2 separate regions of the Homo sapiens genome follow, and region 2 is linked to region 1. The links come from fine-mapping of genetic effects on gene expression. A gene starts in region 1. The other region holds a variant in brackets. All regions are shown on one strand. Distances are from middle to middle.

Region 1 (9,284 bases):
TCAAAAAATAATAACAATAATAATTTTTTTAAAAAAATCTACATAGATGGTCCTCAACTGACAATACGGTTATGTTCCAATAAACCCATCATAAGTCAAAAATATCATAAGTTAAAAATGCATTTAATACTCCTACAGGACATCATAGCTTAGCCTAGCCTACCTTAGATGAGCTCAGAACACTTACCTTAGCCTACAGTTGAGCAAAATCATCTAACGCATAGCCTGTTTTTATAATAGAGTGTTGAATATCTCACATCATTTATTGAACACTGTACACTATAGAGTATCAAACGTTTACCCTTGTGGCTGACAGCTGCAGCTCACCGCCACTGCCTGGCATCACAATATCTTATAGAATATTGCTAGCCTGGAGAAAGATGAAAATTCAAAATTCAAAGTGCAGCTTCTACTGAATGGGTATTGCTTTCACAACATCATAAAGTCAAAACAATCCTAAGTCAAACCATCATTAAGGTAGGGACCATCCGTATGTGAAAGACAAAACTATAAAGACTTTAGAAGATAATACAAAATATCTTCATGACCTCAGGGTAGAGAAGTATTTCTTACTTTTGTTTTGTTTTTTTGAGATGGAGTTTTGCTCCTGTCTCCCAGGCTGGAGTGCAATGGTGCAATCTTGGCTCACTGCAACTTCTGCCTCCCGGGTTCAAGCAATTCTTCTGCCTCAGCCTCCTGAGTAGCTGGATTACAGGCACTCACCATCACACCCCAGCTAATTTTTGTATTTTTAGTAGGGTTGGGGTTTCACCATGTTGGCCAGGCTGGTCTCAAACTCTTGACCTCAGGTGATCTGCCCGCCTCGGCCTCCCAAATTGCTGGGATTACAGGCGTGGGCCATTGCACCCGGCCAAGAAGTATTTCTTAAACAAGTTACAATAAAACTATAAATAAAGGACTGATAAATTATTATTCTACATTTTTAATTAAGGATTCCTAGTCCTCAAGACTCTGTAAAAAGAGAATAAAAAAGAAGGCATACCAAAGAATAGGAGAAAAAATCTGCAACACAGATAACTTATAAAGAACATGTCTCCAGAATATACAAAATTCAAATAAGAAAAAGATAAAATAGAAAAATGGGCCCAAATCTTGAGCAAACACTTCATCACAGAAAGCTAAATGGTCAATAAGGCCAGGCACAATGGCTCATGCCTGTAATCCCAGCACTTTGGGAGGCTGAGGCAAGCGGATCGCTTGTGTCCAGGAATTCAAGACCAGCCAGGGTGACATAGCGAAACCCTGTCTCTACGAAAAATACAAAAATTAGCCAGGCATTGTGGCACATGCCTGTAGTCCTAACTACTTGGGAGGCTGAGGCAGGAGGACTCCTTGAGCCCAGGAGGTGGAGGTTGCAGCGTGCTGCGATTGTGCCACTGCACTCCAGCCTGGGCGACAGAGCAAGACCCTGTCTCAAAAATAAATAAAAATAAATAAAATAAATGGTCAATAAATATAAGAAAAGGTGCTCAACCACATTTTGGAAATCAGAAAAATGTAAATTAAACCACACTTAGATACCACTATGCCCTCATCAGACTGGCAAAACATTTCAAGTCTAGCAATATCAAGCACAGGCAACAAAGTAGACAAAGCACTTATCCAGTGCCAATGAGTGTGAAAATTAACACAACCGGTTCTGGCATTACCTAGTAAAGTGGAAATGGGCATGAACTATGACTCTGCAATTCTACTCCAAGGTTTATATCCTAGGGCAGGGGTCCCCAACCCTCAGGCCACGGACTGGTACCAGTCCATGGCCTGTTAGGAACCAGACCCACAGCAGGTGAGCTGCAGGCAAGCAGGCAAAGCTTCATCTGTATTTACAGCCGCTACCCATTACCCATTACCACCTGAGCTCTGCCTCCAGTCAGATCAGCGGCGGCATTAGATTCTCATAGGAGCAAGAACCCTATGTAAACTGCGCATGCAAGGGATCTAGGTTGCATGTTCCTGATGAGAATCGAATGCCTGATGATCTGTCACTGTCTCCCATCACCCACAGATGAGACCATCTAGCTCCAGGAAAACAAGCTCAGGCTCCCACTGATTCTACATTATGGTGAGTTGTATAATTATTTCATTATATATTACAATGTAATAATAACAGAAATAAAGTGCACAATAAATGTAATGCGTTTGAATCATCCCAAAAACCATCCCCCACCCCAGTTCATGGAGAAACTGTCTTCCATGAAACCAGTCCCTGGTACCAAAAATGTTGGGGACAGCTGTCCCAGGGAGAAAGTCCTGCACACATGCAACAGGAGACATAAACAATGCACAGTTGCCAGTCTCAGAGGAATGCATTTAAAATTGTATTATGTTCAATTGCAGGTGTAATTCATTCATTTTCATTACTGTCTAGTATTCGGCAGTGATGTAGCAACCCAAATAACAAAGAGGCTCTCTAAAAGAAAAGACATATATACATAAATTTGCAATGCTTTGTTCCTAAATAAGTATATTTTCTTTTGAGAACCTCTCTTTATTGTTATTTAGGTTAACATCCAGAATACTATACAGTAGTGAAAATGAATAAATTACAGTTACATCCAACAACATGGATGATTTTCTGGAACACAATGTTGAAAATAAAAAAAAAGAAAACCGCAAAACAATAAAACGTTATGTCCATCTAAGTTCAAAAACAAAGCAAAATAAAACACTTAGGGCAAAATAAAACAGGAATACACAGAGCTCATAAAAATATAATGAAGAGTAAAGAAACATAATTATAAAATGAAATACTAAGAGTAATAAACACAATTCAGGATGATGGTGACCTCTGAGCAGGGAGACAAGGGGTCCAGGAAAGACACACAGGGATTTATAATATAACAAGCCAGGTGATGGGTGTTTGATGTATACTTTTTCTGCTTTATAATTTTTTTTTTTTTAAAGACAGTTTCTCACTCTGTCACCCAGGCTAGAGTACAGTGGCACGATCATAGCTCATTGCAGCCTCCACCTCCCGGGCTCAAGCGATTCTCCCACCTCGGCCTCAGCACAAACCCAGCTAATTTTTGTATTTAATGTGGAGATGGCGTCTTGCTATGTTGCCCAGGCTGGTCTCCAACTCCTGGGCTCAAGCAATCTGCCCACCTTGGCCTCCCAAAGTGTTGGAATTACAGGCGTGAGCCACCGCTTCAGGCCTCCTTTACAAATATTTTATACAGCATTCTTTCATAGCTACTCAATGTCTAATTGAAAATAAAAACAGCAGCATAAAGGAGAAAACTCTATGTTTTTTTTTTTTTTATAGAAGGTGTAAAGGCATTTGACAAAATTCAGCCAGTTTCCAGGGGGCACAGCCCACGTTTCATTCTGTGTGACTGCTGCCCCCTGGCGCCCAACTCAGGCAGGACTGGCAACTACCGGTGAGTCCCAGCAGCCGCAAGACAAACTAAAGGAAACCCCAACATTTTAAAAGCCACTTGCCGAAACTCTCACCGCTCAACTCTCACATGCGGATTTCCACGCATATCAGAAACAGCCCGGGATCATTATTCAACATTGTTTCAGAGGTTCTAACTAAAGCAAACTGACAAAATAAATTGGTATACTGGCAAATTTGTATCTATAAAAAACAGGCTTATTAAAACTACCAGAATTCCTAAGACAGAAAGTGAATTATATTAAATCATTAGCTTTTCTACATATTAATAATCAATGAGTAATACAGATGGAAAAAAGTATTCCATCACAATAGACAAAAACCATAAAACACTTAGGAATAATTTTAACCAGAAAGTTATAGAACCCGTATAAAGAATTTATAAAATCTTATTGGAGGACCTAAAAGAAGTCTTGAGTAAATGGAAAGCCATTTTTTATCCTCTGGGGGAGGATTAATATCACAAAAATGTCAATGCTCCCAAAACTTCCATTTAAATTTAATGCAATTATAATTTAAATCCCAATGGAACACTTTCTTTTAGGCAGGGATGGGAACGAACTGGATAATGCGATTAAATATTTCATGTGAGAGAATACATTCTAAGACTGGAAAAGCATTTTTTAACAAGTGAGGGAGACTGATCTATTTAGATGCTGATGACGCCCAAAATTATAGTTTCAGCCAGAACCTCACCCCTCACATCAGACTCACTTGTGCAACTGACCACAGATGTCTCCACTGGCGTCTAAGCGGGATCTCAAACTCAACAGGTCCACACCTGTTGGCTCATTTAGTAAGAGGCTCATTTAATAAGTGGGGCTGGAATAAGTTAATTTCCACCTGGGGGCGGGAGACGCTTGACTCTTGCCTTACAGCTTATACTAAAATATATTCCATAAGGACTATAGGTTGTCTAGTAAAAAATAAATAATAAACATTGCAACAAAATGTAAGAGAATATCGGGGGAAGGGGAGAAGAGAGAAGGGGATTGATTTCCCTAAGCATGATAGGAATCCCCAAAACTTTAAAACATTTACCTTTCAACAAACACCATAAACCAAGCCAAGGACAAACGCATAGAAAACGGACTAATGTTAACTAAGTCCAAGAGGCTTCAGGCGCTTGGCCTCGGGTCAAAAGGGAGACATACAGGCTGGCTCTTCCGGGCAAGAGGAAAAACACGCAGCTTCCTTTCCAAGTGTTCTTCCTTTCAGAGATAAAAGCGCCGACCCTAAGGACATCTGTTCAACGAATGTTTTTCCCTAATGACCCCCGGAAAGTTGGAAAGCCGGGGTAGAAAAGATTTCTTCTGCACTTTGACTTAATTAATGCGCAGCAGCTTGCAGGAAAAAAAAAAAATCCTCGCTTCTCTGTTTCGGGTGTGAGTGGGCCATTGCTCTCCCTGTAAGGAGCTACTAGAGACGCTGAGGCAGGAGAATCGCTTGAACCCTGGAGGCGGAGGTTGCAGTGAGGCGAGATGGCGCCACTGCACTCCAGCCTGGGCGACAGAGCGAAACTGTCTCAAAAAAAAAAAAAAAAAAAAAGTAGGGGATTAGAGCTGGCCACGGCTTCCCCAGAAACCTGCAGTTACTGGAGTAGGAAGAGGCCTCGGAGAATCCCTGGAAGCATCTACCTAAAAGACGCGAGGAAACCCCCAAAGGCCACAGGCACCTGCACCAAACCCTGAGTGCCGCAGGAAGCTCGCGAGGCTTCCAAAGCGCATGCGCAGGTCACGGTACGGGCACGTGCGGCGCGCCAGCAAAACCACGCAGGCGTCTTGTCGCTTCCGCCTCGAGCGTGTGGCGGGATTGCGGAAGCCCTCCACAGTTCATAACCGTTGGCTGGTTATGAACCGTTCATAACGGGCGTTAATAACCATACCCTGTTAGACTAAGCATGGTCCACCCGCGAATCCTCTACAGAGATGGCCAAGCGCTGGGGTCGTGGCTGCGTCCTCTAGGCCAGGTGAGAATTTACAACCCACCCTCGGCCACTGTTGTGCTGTGGCCGCTGATGATTAAGCATGAGGAACTCAGAAACTCTGAACCTTCTGACAAACGGGTTCTCCCCTGCCCACCGCGGTGCCCCAAACCCAGCAGGACAGATTGGTTTACATGGTGGGGCATTGGGGAGGACCCAGAGCTTTCAATAAGGGAAGAAATGATGTGGGGAGGGACAGTAAATCAAAGTAGGGGATTAGGCCGGGCGCTGTGGCTCACGTCTGTAATCCCAGCCCTTTGGGAGGCTGAGGCAGATGGATCTCTCGAGACTGGGAGTTCTAGACCAGCCTGGCCAACATGGCGAAACCCCATCTCTACTAAAAATACGAAAATTAGCCGGGCGTGGTGGCGCGCGCCTGTAATTCCAGCTACTAGAGAGGCTGAGGCAGGAGAATCGCTTGAACCCTGGAGGCAGAGGTTGCAATGAGGCAAGATGGCGCCACTGCACTCCAGCCTGGGCTACAGAGCGAGACTGTCTCAAAAAAAAAAAAAAAAAAAAGTAGGGGATTAGAGCTGGCCACAGCTTCCCCAGTAACCTGCAGTTACTGGAGCAGGAAGGGGCCTCGGAGAATCCCTGGAAGCATCTCAACAGAATCCAGAGGGGACAAGAAAAGAGGAGGGATACGTCTGTCGCATCCTTCCCTTCTCATTGATCCAAGTTTGCACTAGTGGTGTGAGCCCTCCTTATCTTCCAGGCCTTGGTGGGCAGCTGTTGACATGTCCAGAACCCCAGGAAGTGCTGAAGGTACCTGCAGTTCAGGCCCCATGGAAGCCCAGACCTCCTTCACCCTTCGGGGACACTGAAATTGGCCAAATGTTTAGGCCATGAGGATGGCTGCTGAGTAAGCCCATAATCCCTACATCGGACACAAGTAAGCAGGTGAAGGCCTACAGGTAGCAGGTAGGGGCCAGTGAATCTTGGAAGCAAAGATTTGGGGGTCAAGAACAGCAGGGAGCTCTGGGCCCCCATCCTAGCTTCAACCAGAGCAGCTCCAGGACTCCTGGCTTTCCATATGGGCTTCTGGATAAATTTTAGGTACTCCTGAGGCTGAATAAGCTGGAAAGCCTCTGCCATCACCCAACTCCGTTATTTTAGAGGAGGAACAGGAGCCAAAATGGGCAGTGACTTGTCTGAGGCCTTGCCAGCTTGAAGAAGGAAATGTCCGCTGAACCCAACAGTGGCCCTGGTAAGGCCTGGTGCATTGCAAGTTACCGGATGAAAATGGTGACTGGCCGGGTGCAGTGGCTCATGCCTGTAATCCCAGCCAAGGCGGGCAAATCACTTGAGATCAGGAGTTTGAGACCAGCCTGGCCAACATGGTGAAACCCTGTCTTTACCAAAAAATACAAAAATTAGCTGGGCATGGTGGCACGCACCTGTAGTCCCAGCTACTTGGGAGGCTGAGAGGGGAGAATCGCTGGAACCCAGGAGGTGAAGGTTGCAATGAGCCGAGACTGTGCCACTGCACTCCAGCCTGGGTGACAGAGCAAGAGTCCGTCACAAAACAAACAAAAACAGAAACAACCCCAAATGTCCGTAAGTAGGAGACAATATATCCAACACATGAAATGCTCTGTGGTTCATGAGAATAAAGAAGACCCATATGGGTTATTCTGAAGCAGGTTCCACTACACTAAGCTGCACTAAGTAGTTTTAACAGGCAGAAATGGAACAGAGTGGAAGTGCGTGCACTTAGGAGGGATACTCTCCAGGGAGAATTCAGGGATTGGGTGGGAGAAGGGAGCCTTGCTTTTCATGGTCCAGCCTTTTAGACGGTTTTAATGTTTACCATGTGCATGTTTCACTTAAAAACCAAACACCCTAGGTGAGGCATGGTGGCTCACACTGTAATCCCAGCACTCTGGGAGGCCGAGGCAGGTGGATCACTTGAGCTCAGGAGTTTGAGACCATCCTAAGCAACATGACGAAACTCTACCAAAAATACAAAAAAAATTCGCCAGGCATGATGGTGTGTGCCTGTGGTTCCAGCTACCTGGGAGGCTAAGGTGGGAGATCACTTGAGCCTGGAAGGCAGATGTATCAGTGAGCCAAGATCGTGCCACTGCACTCCAGCCTAGGTGACCAGGGCGAGACCCCCATCTCAAACAAAACACCCTAGAGTCCCCACCCCTCTCGTTCTTTAAACACCAGCATTGCTGCCCTTCACTTTCTTGCAGCCTTGTGCAAAGGACCTTCTCACCACAGATCAGCCAGACCATCTTCCTCCTTCCAAGTCATCAAAGAGTTCCAAGCTGGTCACCTGTCCCTTGATGTTCCCAGGAAACCAGGAAAGAGGACCCCTGCATTTTATCTTCCCATCCAGAGTGGCAGGATCTCTGCCTGGGAAACAGGCTTCATTCAGCACAGCTGTGGTAGCATTAACAAAGCAAAGTGGGCACATGTAGAAGTTGAAGCTAAAACATTCAAGAACTCCAGTCTGTTTCTGTGGATGTTAAGGGGGTGAAGATAAAACAATGGAGGTGATGAGGAGGAATAACTTGAAGACAGTTTAAAGCCACAGTGATACAAAGAATGAAGAGAAGGAAGGTGCTGGATTTTACTAAGAAAACAGACTGAGTTCAGGAGTCTCACCAGTAGAACTTTATAGTATTGCGTTTCGATTACATGTGTGTGAATTTTAAAAACTGATTACCCTCCAGTAAAAATGTGGAACCAATTTGCATTTGGATTAAAACATTAGGTTTGGGGACAAAAGTGGACCCCATGCTGCCTGAGATGAAGAGAGAGAGCAGGATGGCAGAGGAATCACCAGCTCAAGAAACCCCAAGACTTGGACAGTCTTCCAGCAGAAGAGGCCAGGGTCTCTCAGTGTACTACTCCAAACAGGCCTCTCCTAGAGATGTAGTCTGGGAAGGTCCAAAACCCACCAGACAGGCACATCCAGTGGGGAAAAGACTTCCCATTCCAGTGTGGCCTGCATCCCTCACCTCTGCTTCCCAGTCTTCTGCTGACCTCAGAGGAGCAGGGTGGCCATTGCTGATCTGGGTTAGGGAGATGCCAGAAACACACCCAGGTTTGAACCACAGGTTAGTGGTACAAAGTCACAGTCCTTGTGCCTTCAGAAAACCCAGAGGCCCCAAATACGAGTGGGAAGAGAGTTGGGAAAAACTGAACCAGACTCTTCCAATGGCCATTAAAGAGAAAATTCAGCAACGCTTGCCTTTGTCTTTGACCCTGAGAAGTTAAGGGACACAGATTGTGGCGCCGTGATGGAACATGGAGGGAAGGCATGGTGTGCTTCCTGCAGAGATGCCTCTGGAGTCCCTGTGGCCACGGGATCTCACTGGCCCCCTCTTCAGGCACCTTGATGGGGCTCAGTGGGGCCAGGCCGAAGGGTGGAAGTAGAAAAGCATCAACAGGCTGTCCAGATCAATTGGCACCATCCAAGGCCCTGCTGCACCCACACATGGAGGTCACCAGCTCAGCCCCAGGGGTTCTTTCACACACAAGCTCCTTCCCTAAGGAGTCCTGTGGGGTTCCACACTCAGTGTGCTGCCCAAGTCAGAGATTTACCACAGATCTGTCTCCCCCTCAACCTGGACTCAAGTTACTGTGGTGAGAAACCTCACTGTCCATGGTTAACTGAAGAAATCCCTCCTTCAGAAAGAACTTGAGTAGTAGATGAGGTGGTTAGACAGGATCTTTTTCCCTCAAGCTGTTTGGACGCCACAGCCAGGACCAACTCTGACAGCTGCGAGAGAGAGAGCCCCTCCAATGTGGAACCTCCTACACAGCCCCCCTTTTGGGTCCCTGGATATGAGCCCCCAGCAGGACCACCACTCTAGGGGGAAGTCTCCCTCCCATCCCTCAGATCCCCACATTGTTCCTCCTGTAGGAGAA
Region 2 (8,000 bases), 20 kb before region 1:
TGATGGTACATGCCTGTAGTCCCAGATACTCAGGAGGACTGAGGTGGGAGGATCACTTGAGCCCAGGAGGTCGAGGCTGCAGTGAGTTGTGAACACACCACTGCACTCTAGCCTGTGTGACAGAGCAAGACCCTGTCTCAAAAAATAATAATAATTTTGGCTAGACGTGGTGGTTCATGCCTATAATCTCCTGTATTCCATTTTCACACTGCTATAAAGATACCACCAGAGACTGGGTAATTTATAAAGGAGAAAAGGTTTAATTAACTCACAGTTCTGCCTGATTGATTGGGGAAGCCTCAGGAAACTCAATCATGGCGTAAGGTGAAGGAGAAGCAAGTACCTTCTTCACAAGGCAGCAGGAAAAGAGCAGAGAGTAGGGGAAACAGCTGCTTACAAAACCATCAGATCTAGTGAGAACTCACTCACTATCACAAGAATAGCATGGGGGAAACCACCCCCATGGTCCAATCACCTCCCACCCGGTCCCTCCCCTGACATGTGGGGATTACAATTTGAGATGAGATTTGGGTAGGGACACAGCCAAACCCTATTATCCCAGCACTTTGGAAGGCTGAGGCGGGAGGATTGCTTGAGTTGAAGAATTTGAGACCAGCCTGGGCAATATGGCAAGATATCATCTTTATATTAATAATAATAATAATAATAATAATAAAAGCAGAAATCAATTAAAAAAACAAAGCCAAAAGTTGATTCTTTGAGGCATAAAAAAACTGTCAAAATAGAAAACTACTGACAAGACTGATCAAGATAGAAATAAATATTAATGAAAAAGGTTTAATGTGACATATAAAGTATAAAGACATAATTAAAACTTAGATTGGAGGGACAAATTCTTAGAAAAATATAACAAGAACTAACTCTAGCTGGGCACAGTGGCTCATGCTTATAATCCCAGCACTTTGGAAAGCCAAGGCAGTTGGATTGCTTAAGCCCATGAGTTCAAGACCAACCTGGGCAACAGCAAGACCCTGTCTCTACAAAAAAAAAATTTTTTTAATTAGCCATGTGTAGTCCCACCTGTAGTACACATGTGTAGTACACACCTGTAGTCCCAGCTACTCAGGAGGCTGAGGCAGGAAGGTTACTTGAGCCCAGGAAGTCGAGGCTGCAGTGAGCCATGACTACTACTGCATACCAGCCTGGGTGACAAAGCAGACCCTATCTCAAAAAAAAAAAAAAAAGAAAAAGAACTGACTCTAGAAGAAATTGAAAACATGAATAGTCCTATAATAAAGTAACTGAAGCAATAGTTTAAAAATTACTGTAAGGAAAACACGAGGCCCAGATAATTTTACAGATGAATTCTCCCTATTTTTTCAGAAACATATTATTCCAATTTCATATAAAGTGTTCCAGATCATAGAAAAAGGAAATATTCACCTCTCCTAAACTGTGAGGCCAGGATAACCCTCATACCAAATTAGGCTAAACTAGCAGTAGGAAAATAAAAGTTCTACCCTATTTCACTTATATTAATAAATATATAAGCAAAAATCTAAAACGATATCAGAAAATCCAATCCAACAGTGTATAAAAAAGATAGCATCCTATAATCAGGTTGAATTTATCCTGGGTATATAGAATGATTTTATATTAGAAAATCCATAGAGTAATCATATTAACAGATTTCAATAGATTCAGAAAAATCATTTTAGGTGCCTAGATACAAGATTAATATACGAAAGCCAGTTGCATTTCAGCAAACAACTAGAAAAATGCAATTTAAGATAAGACACCAAGACTGGGCGCAGTGGCTCATGCCTGTAATCCCAGCACTTTGGGAAGCCAAGGCAGGCAGATCACCTGAGGTCGGGAGTTTGAGACCAGCCTGACCAACATGGAGAAACCCCATCTCTACTAAAAATACGACATTAGGCGTGGCGGCGCATGCCTGTAATCCCAGCTACTTTGGAGGCTGAGGCAGGAGAATCACTTGAACCCAGGAGGCAAAGGTTGTGGTGAGCCAAGATCATGCCATTGCACTCCAGCCTGGGCAACAAGAGCGAAACTCCATCTCAAAAAAAAAAAAAAAATTAACAGCATATAACATCAAGGACCTTGTAATAAATCTAATATAATCCAGACCTCTATAGAGAACATTATACAGCTTTAATAAGAGATACCAAAGAAGAGCTAAATAAATGGAGAAAGATATAATGTTCACGGATAGAAAGTATTGTAAAGATGTCATGATTTAAAAAGTCAGTAAATCAAACAAAACCCCAATAGGGACCTTCATGGAACTTGATATTAGAATTTTTAAATTTATATTGAGGAATAAAGGGCCAAGACATTTCTGAAGAAGACCAGAGAGGACTTACCCTACTAGATACCAGGATTTTTATTTTGAAACTCTAATGGAACAGATTAGTGAGCCCAGAAACAGACCCATGGATATATGTACCTCTGATATATGACAAAGGTGGCATATCAGATCTTGTGGGAAGATGGAATGGCTCACCAAATGAATCCCTATGGAAAAAGATGCACTTAATCCCTCCCTCACGTTATAAAGAAAATCAAATAATGGCCTTACAGTAATATTGTTTGACTTATTGTAAACAATGACTTAATAAGTTGAAAAGGATAAATATCTTTTAGACCCTAAGGAAATATTAAGACACAAGCATTCATATATTTGACCATATTAAAATACTTTTGTTCATTGAGAACTTTTACTCACTAAAAGGCAATTTAAAGAAAGTGAAAAGACGATGCATAAACAAACTTGGAGAAGGTAATCATAATATCTACCTACACTTGACAGAGGATTATTATCAAGAATACAGAGTATTTTATCATAGTTAAAAATAAAAATTTTTAAAAGATCACATAAAGAACTTTTTTTTGAGATGGAGTCTCACTCTGTCGCCCAGCCTGGAGTACAGTGATGTGATCTCGACTCATTGCAACCTCCGCCTCCCGGGTTCAAGCGATTCTCCTGCCTCAGCCTCCTGAGGAGCTGGGATTACAGGTGTGCGCCACCACGCCCGACTAATTTTTGTATTTTTAGTAGAGATGGAGTTTTGCCATGTTGGCCAGGCTGGTCTCAAATTCCTGACCTCAGGTGATCTGCCTGCCTCTGCCTCCCAAAGTGCTGGGATTACAGGCAAAAGCCACCATGCCCAGCCCACATAAAGAACTTCTAATCAACAATTAATGTAAAAATAATGGGAAAATGTGCAAGAGTCATGAACAAGAATTTTGCAGAAAAAACATATATGGCCAGTCATCACATAAAAAACATGTATGTTGAAGAAGCTGTAGAGCTACAATATCTCTGATACATTGCTGCTGGCAAAAGTTGTAAATTGGTACAACACTCGGGAAAACAGTTTGGCTTTCCACCAGGCGTGGTGGCTCACGCCTGTAATCCCAGCACTTTGGGAGGCCAAGGCCGGTGGAACACCTGAGGTCAGGAGTTCGAGACCAGCCTGGCCAACCTGGTGAAACCCTGTCTCTACTAAAAATATAAAAATTAGCCAGGCGTGGTGGCACACACCTGTAATCCCAGCTACTCGGAAAGCTGAGGCAGGAAAAGTGCTTGAACCTGGGAAGTGGAGGTTGCAGTGTCCGAGATGGTGCCACTGCACTCCAGCCTGGACGACGAGTGAAATTCTGTCCCCCCACAAAAAAAGATGAACAATCACATAGTCATAACCCAGTAATTCTACTTGTAAAAATATACTCGAGAAATTCTTGCAAATGTACAACAGGACTTATGCATGAGACTATTCCAATAACAAAAACTTGGAAACAACACAAATTTATTGAATGAATAACTGTGGTACATTCGCATGAAGGAATATATACAGTAGCTAAAACTAAACCCCAGTAACATGAAGCAACGTAGGTAAATCTTAGCAATATAAGAAAAAAAAAAAAAACGAAAAAAAAAAAACCAAAAAAAAAAAACAGAGGGTCCCACGGCAGTACTGGTGGCCATGGTTCCCGTAGCCAGAAGGAGTCGCTCACAGAGCCCC[A/C]CACACAGCATATGTAGGGAATCTACCTTTTAATATGGTTCAGGGCGACATAGATGCTATCTTTAAGGATCTCAGCATAAGGAGTGTACGGGTAGTCAGAGACAAAGACACAGATAAATTTAAAGGATTCTGCTATATAGAATTCGATGAAGTGGATTCCCTTAAGGAAGCTTGACATACGATGGTGCACTGTTGGGCAATCAGTCACTTCATGTGGACATTGCAGAAGGCAGAAAACAAGATAAAGGTGGCTTTGGATTCAGAAAAGGTGTACCAGATGACGAAGCTTCAGGGATGACTTCTTAGGAGGCAGGGGAGGTAGTCACCCAGGTGACTGGGAAACAGGCCCCCAACTGGGCAGCCACTTCAGAGATGGTCCTCCCTTCCACGATCCAACATGGATTTCAAAGAACCGACAGAGGAGGGAAGAGCACAAAGACCACGACTCCAGCTTAAACCTCGAATGTTGTGACGCCCCTCAATGAAGTAGCCGATCCCAACTCTGCTATCTTCAGGGGTGCCAGACCCAGAGTGGAATTCGTTCACAAGGAGCAAGAATGAGCCTGCGGTTGGGAGGGAATGGAACATGGGGGGTTGGAGCAGGACCACAGCCTGGTGAACCCCTGGGCCATGTTCCTGCAGCTTCCACTCCCATACCTGCCACTGGCCTCCCCACAGTGGAAACACAGCTTGTTGTGAGTGCATGCCAGCTGTCAACAAGTGGTTTTTAGTACATTCTGGGCTTTGCTGTATCTATCTAGTGCCTGTTTGTGCGTTTTTTTCTTTCTACCACTGCTTCCCCATTTTCCTTCTGTCCTTTTCCTCCCAGCTCGTTTTCCTAGCAGCACATGGGGTTCCCCAGAGGATCGGAGGTGGCCATGTGGGGGAGTCGTTTGGGCTGCGGTACTGCATCATTTTTCTCCTTTGCTTTCTCTTTTTACTTTAGACATTGGCCCGACTCCAGGTGTTTCCTTTCACTTCCTCAGTGTTTCTCTTCTGACCTGCATGTTGAGTTCTGTATTGCGTTGGCTTCCAACAAAAACCAGAAGTCACTGACAGACTGAACTGCACCTTGTTGGTATTCAGCTGTGATGGACATAGAGAATTGGAGGCACCTTGTTTTCACAACTAGGATAAAAATAGGTGTTGATTCTTGCAGGGTCCTTTCCATTCCTATTGAGAGGGAGCCCTGGCTCCATGACCCCCTCCCAAAGTGGACTGTCCAAAGGGATAGGCTCACACGAGAAACAGCGAGAGCTGAAAGTGGAGACCGTGGAATAGCAGTAGGGAGTCCACGGAGAAAACACAGTGAATGTTCGTAGGCATTCACGTGTTTTTGTTACTGCTTTTTCGAGGCTGTGTCCCAATGAGTTCACTCCTTTCACCAGACATGGTCGAGGTTCCCCTCTCTGGCCAGCTGCAGTGAATGGCCAGCGGGTTTCTTTTCTCCTGGGCCAAGGCACTTTGAGGGTTGGGGGATAGCGCCGGCACTGCGCTTGGCTGACTGCAGCGCTGACACGGTGTTTCCCCAAATCCCTGTTGCCTGTGTGTTTGTGTTTATCTGTTCCTAGTACAGGCAACATAATGAGATACTGTGCTTCCCACCTCCCCTTCAATTCATAGCCAAAATGGGTCTAGAATCTGGCACTTTACTCATTTCCCTTGATAAATGAAATTGTACTGTGCAGAGCTGTCAGGACCTTCAGATGATCGTATAGGACTGTAGCTGTCTAGGTCTGAGGCTGCATCTTGGGGACACACTTGGTTGTTCCCATGTGCAGGGTTCAGCACTTACCTGGGAGTGGTAGTGGTTAGGCTTTTGAGCTTGAACGCCCGCGTGTGAACAGATGAAAAATCCTTCAGTACCCAAATCCCAGTCTTCCCTTTGGGGAGCAGTTGGGGGGTGGCTGGCAGCAAGGGCCTAGGAAAGAGACCCTTGCAGGGTGATGGCAGGGCAGCCTGGGGCGCCCAGTGTAGTGTGCTTAGTAATTGGTCACCAGCTGTCATCCTTGGCTTCTCCTACTGTATCTTTGTTACAAGCCCTCCGCAATCCACAGAACTCTCTCTCCTTCCTTCCACCTGTCAGCTTCTCTGCTTCTGAGATAAGAACCATTTCTGTAACACCAATACTTAAGAAAGACATGCATTATGTGGTGTAATCAAACCTGATGCTTTCAGATCATCTACTTACATCTTCAACATGGATAAGATAAACAAAACAAATGCATCTAAACTTCTGGGCAATCCAGTTGATTTTTAAATGTAAGAATGGAATTCCAAACACAACACATTCAGCTATATGACAGAAAGTAAATCTATGGATATGGTATTTTTTGAAGGATCTTTTCAACAAAAGAAATGCTTACATAATTAAAATATATATATATATATACACACATTAGGAAAGATGGACTAACTACAACCCAAGTAGAGAAAGTATGAACAAGGCCTGCTGGACAGTTATACAACCTTGCACTCAACAACTGTTCTCTTCAATCACATGGAACGTGTGCAAAAACTGCCCATATACTGGGCCATAAAGCAAATTTCAAAGGACTGAAATTATGCCAAGTATATTGTCTGACTCCAAGGCAATTATACTAGAAAAAAATGACTAGAAAAATCCCCATATGGGCTGGGCACAGTAGCTGATGCCTGTAATCCCAACACTCTGGAAGGCCAAGATAGGCAGACCAATTGAGGTCAGGGGTTCAATACCAGCCTGGCCAACATGACAAAACCCCATCTCTACTAAAAATACAATAAAATTAGCTGGGTGTGGGGGCATGCCCTGAAATCCCAGCTACTCAGGAGGCTAAGGCAGGAGAGTTGCTTGAACCCAGGAGGCGGAGGTTGCAGTGAGCGAAGCATCAGGCCACTTCACTCCAGCCTGGGCCACAGAGCGAGACCCGTCTTTTTTTTTTTTTTTTTTTTTTTTTTTTTTAGACGGAGCCTCGAACTGTCGCCCAGGCTGGAGTGCAATGGTGTGATCTCGGCTCACCACAACCTCGGCCTCCTGGGGTTCAAGCAATTCTCCCACCTCAGCCTCCTGAGTAGATTACCTGGGATTACAGGTGCCTGCCACCATGCCCAGCTAATTTTTAGTAGAAACGGGCTTTCACTATGTTGGCCAGGCTGGTCTCGAACTCCTGACCTCGTGATCCACCGGCCTCAGCCTCCCAAAGCGCTGGGATTACAGGCGTGAGCCACCGTGCCCAGCGGAGACCCTGTCTTAAAAAAGCCAGGCACTCCAGCCTGGGCAACAAGAGTGAAACTGTCTCAAAAAAGAAGAAGAAAAAAAAACATAATAGAAAAGAAGAAAAGCCAAGAAATATTAAGCTAGGCAATTCCCAGATAAGTCTAATGTGGCAAAACAGCGGCAGGTTGGCCATGTGAGCATGGGAGGTGTGGGGAGCAGAAGGCAGCTGTTTGCAGCCACTGGGTTCCGCCGGGTGGGCTCACTGGGGTGGGCCCAAGGCCAGAGGGAGTCCTGGACGCGGGGAGCTGGAGGGTGAGGCGACCCGGGAGGAGACACCGCCAGGCAGGGGAGGGCGGCCGGGTAGGTGTGGTCCGGCTCACACCGCAGCCACCGCCACCGCCACCACCACCGCCACAGGGAGAACGCGGAGAACATGTACTACTTCTCAGAGCTGGCCCTGACCCTCAACGAGCACGAGGAGGGCGTAGCGCCAACCGACAGCCGCCTGCGGCCCGACCAGCGGCTGATGGAGAAGGGCCGTTGGGACGAGGCCAATACCGAGAAGCAGCGGCTGGAGGAGAAGCAGCGCCTGTCGCGGCGCCGGCGGCTGGAGGCCTGCGGGCCGGGCAGCAGCTGCAGCTCGGAGGAAGGTGAGGCCGGGCGGGAAGGGCGCCCCGGAGGGGAGGAAAGGGGTGCCCGGGTGGGGGTGCCGCAGGGACGGATTCCGGGGGAGCAGGCCACAAGCCCACCCACCAGCCCACTGTGCCTGCCCAGCAGAGAAGGAGGCGGATGCC

Evidence for each region.
Region 2: its variant is fine-mapped to the expression of MORC2-AS1 in whole blood (TOPMed, PIP 0.99).

The regions. Positions count from the first base shown.
Region 1 is chr22:30,917,129-30,926,412 of GRCh38, forward strand. It overlaps MORC2-AS1 (MORC2 antisense RNA 1), which reads left to right and starts at 5,180. Exons shown (of 2, transcript NR_026920.1): 1 at 5,180-5,387; 2 at 7,601-9,284. MORC2 (MORC family CW-type zinc finger 2) reads right to left here. Exons shown (of 26, transcript NM_001303256.3): 26 at 8,002-9,284. LOC107985544 (a long non-coding RNA gene) reads right to left here and starts at 4,651. Exons shown (of 3, transcript NR_146603.1): 1 at 4,460-4,651.
Region 2 is chr22:30,898,214-30,906,213 of GRCh38, forward strand. It overlaps OSBP2 (oxysterol binding protein 2), which reads left to right. Exons shown (of 14, transcript NM_030758.4): 13 at 7,624-7,856; 14 at 7,984-8,000. The region is part of intron 2 of LOC107985544 (a long non-coding RNA gene); the gene reads right to left. It also overlaps the pseudogene EIF4HP2. Among named protein-coding and RNA genes, the nearest start is that of MORC2-AS1, 20 kb to the right of the region's middle. RefSeq lists an enhancer at 5,028-5,127. The variant A/C (reference allele first, on the strand shown) is at 4,008.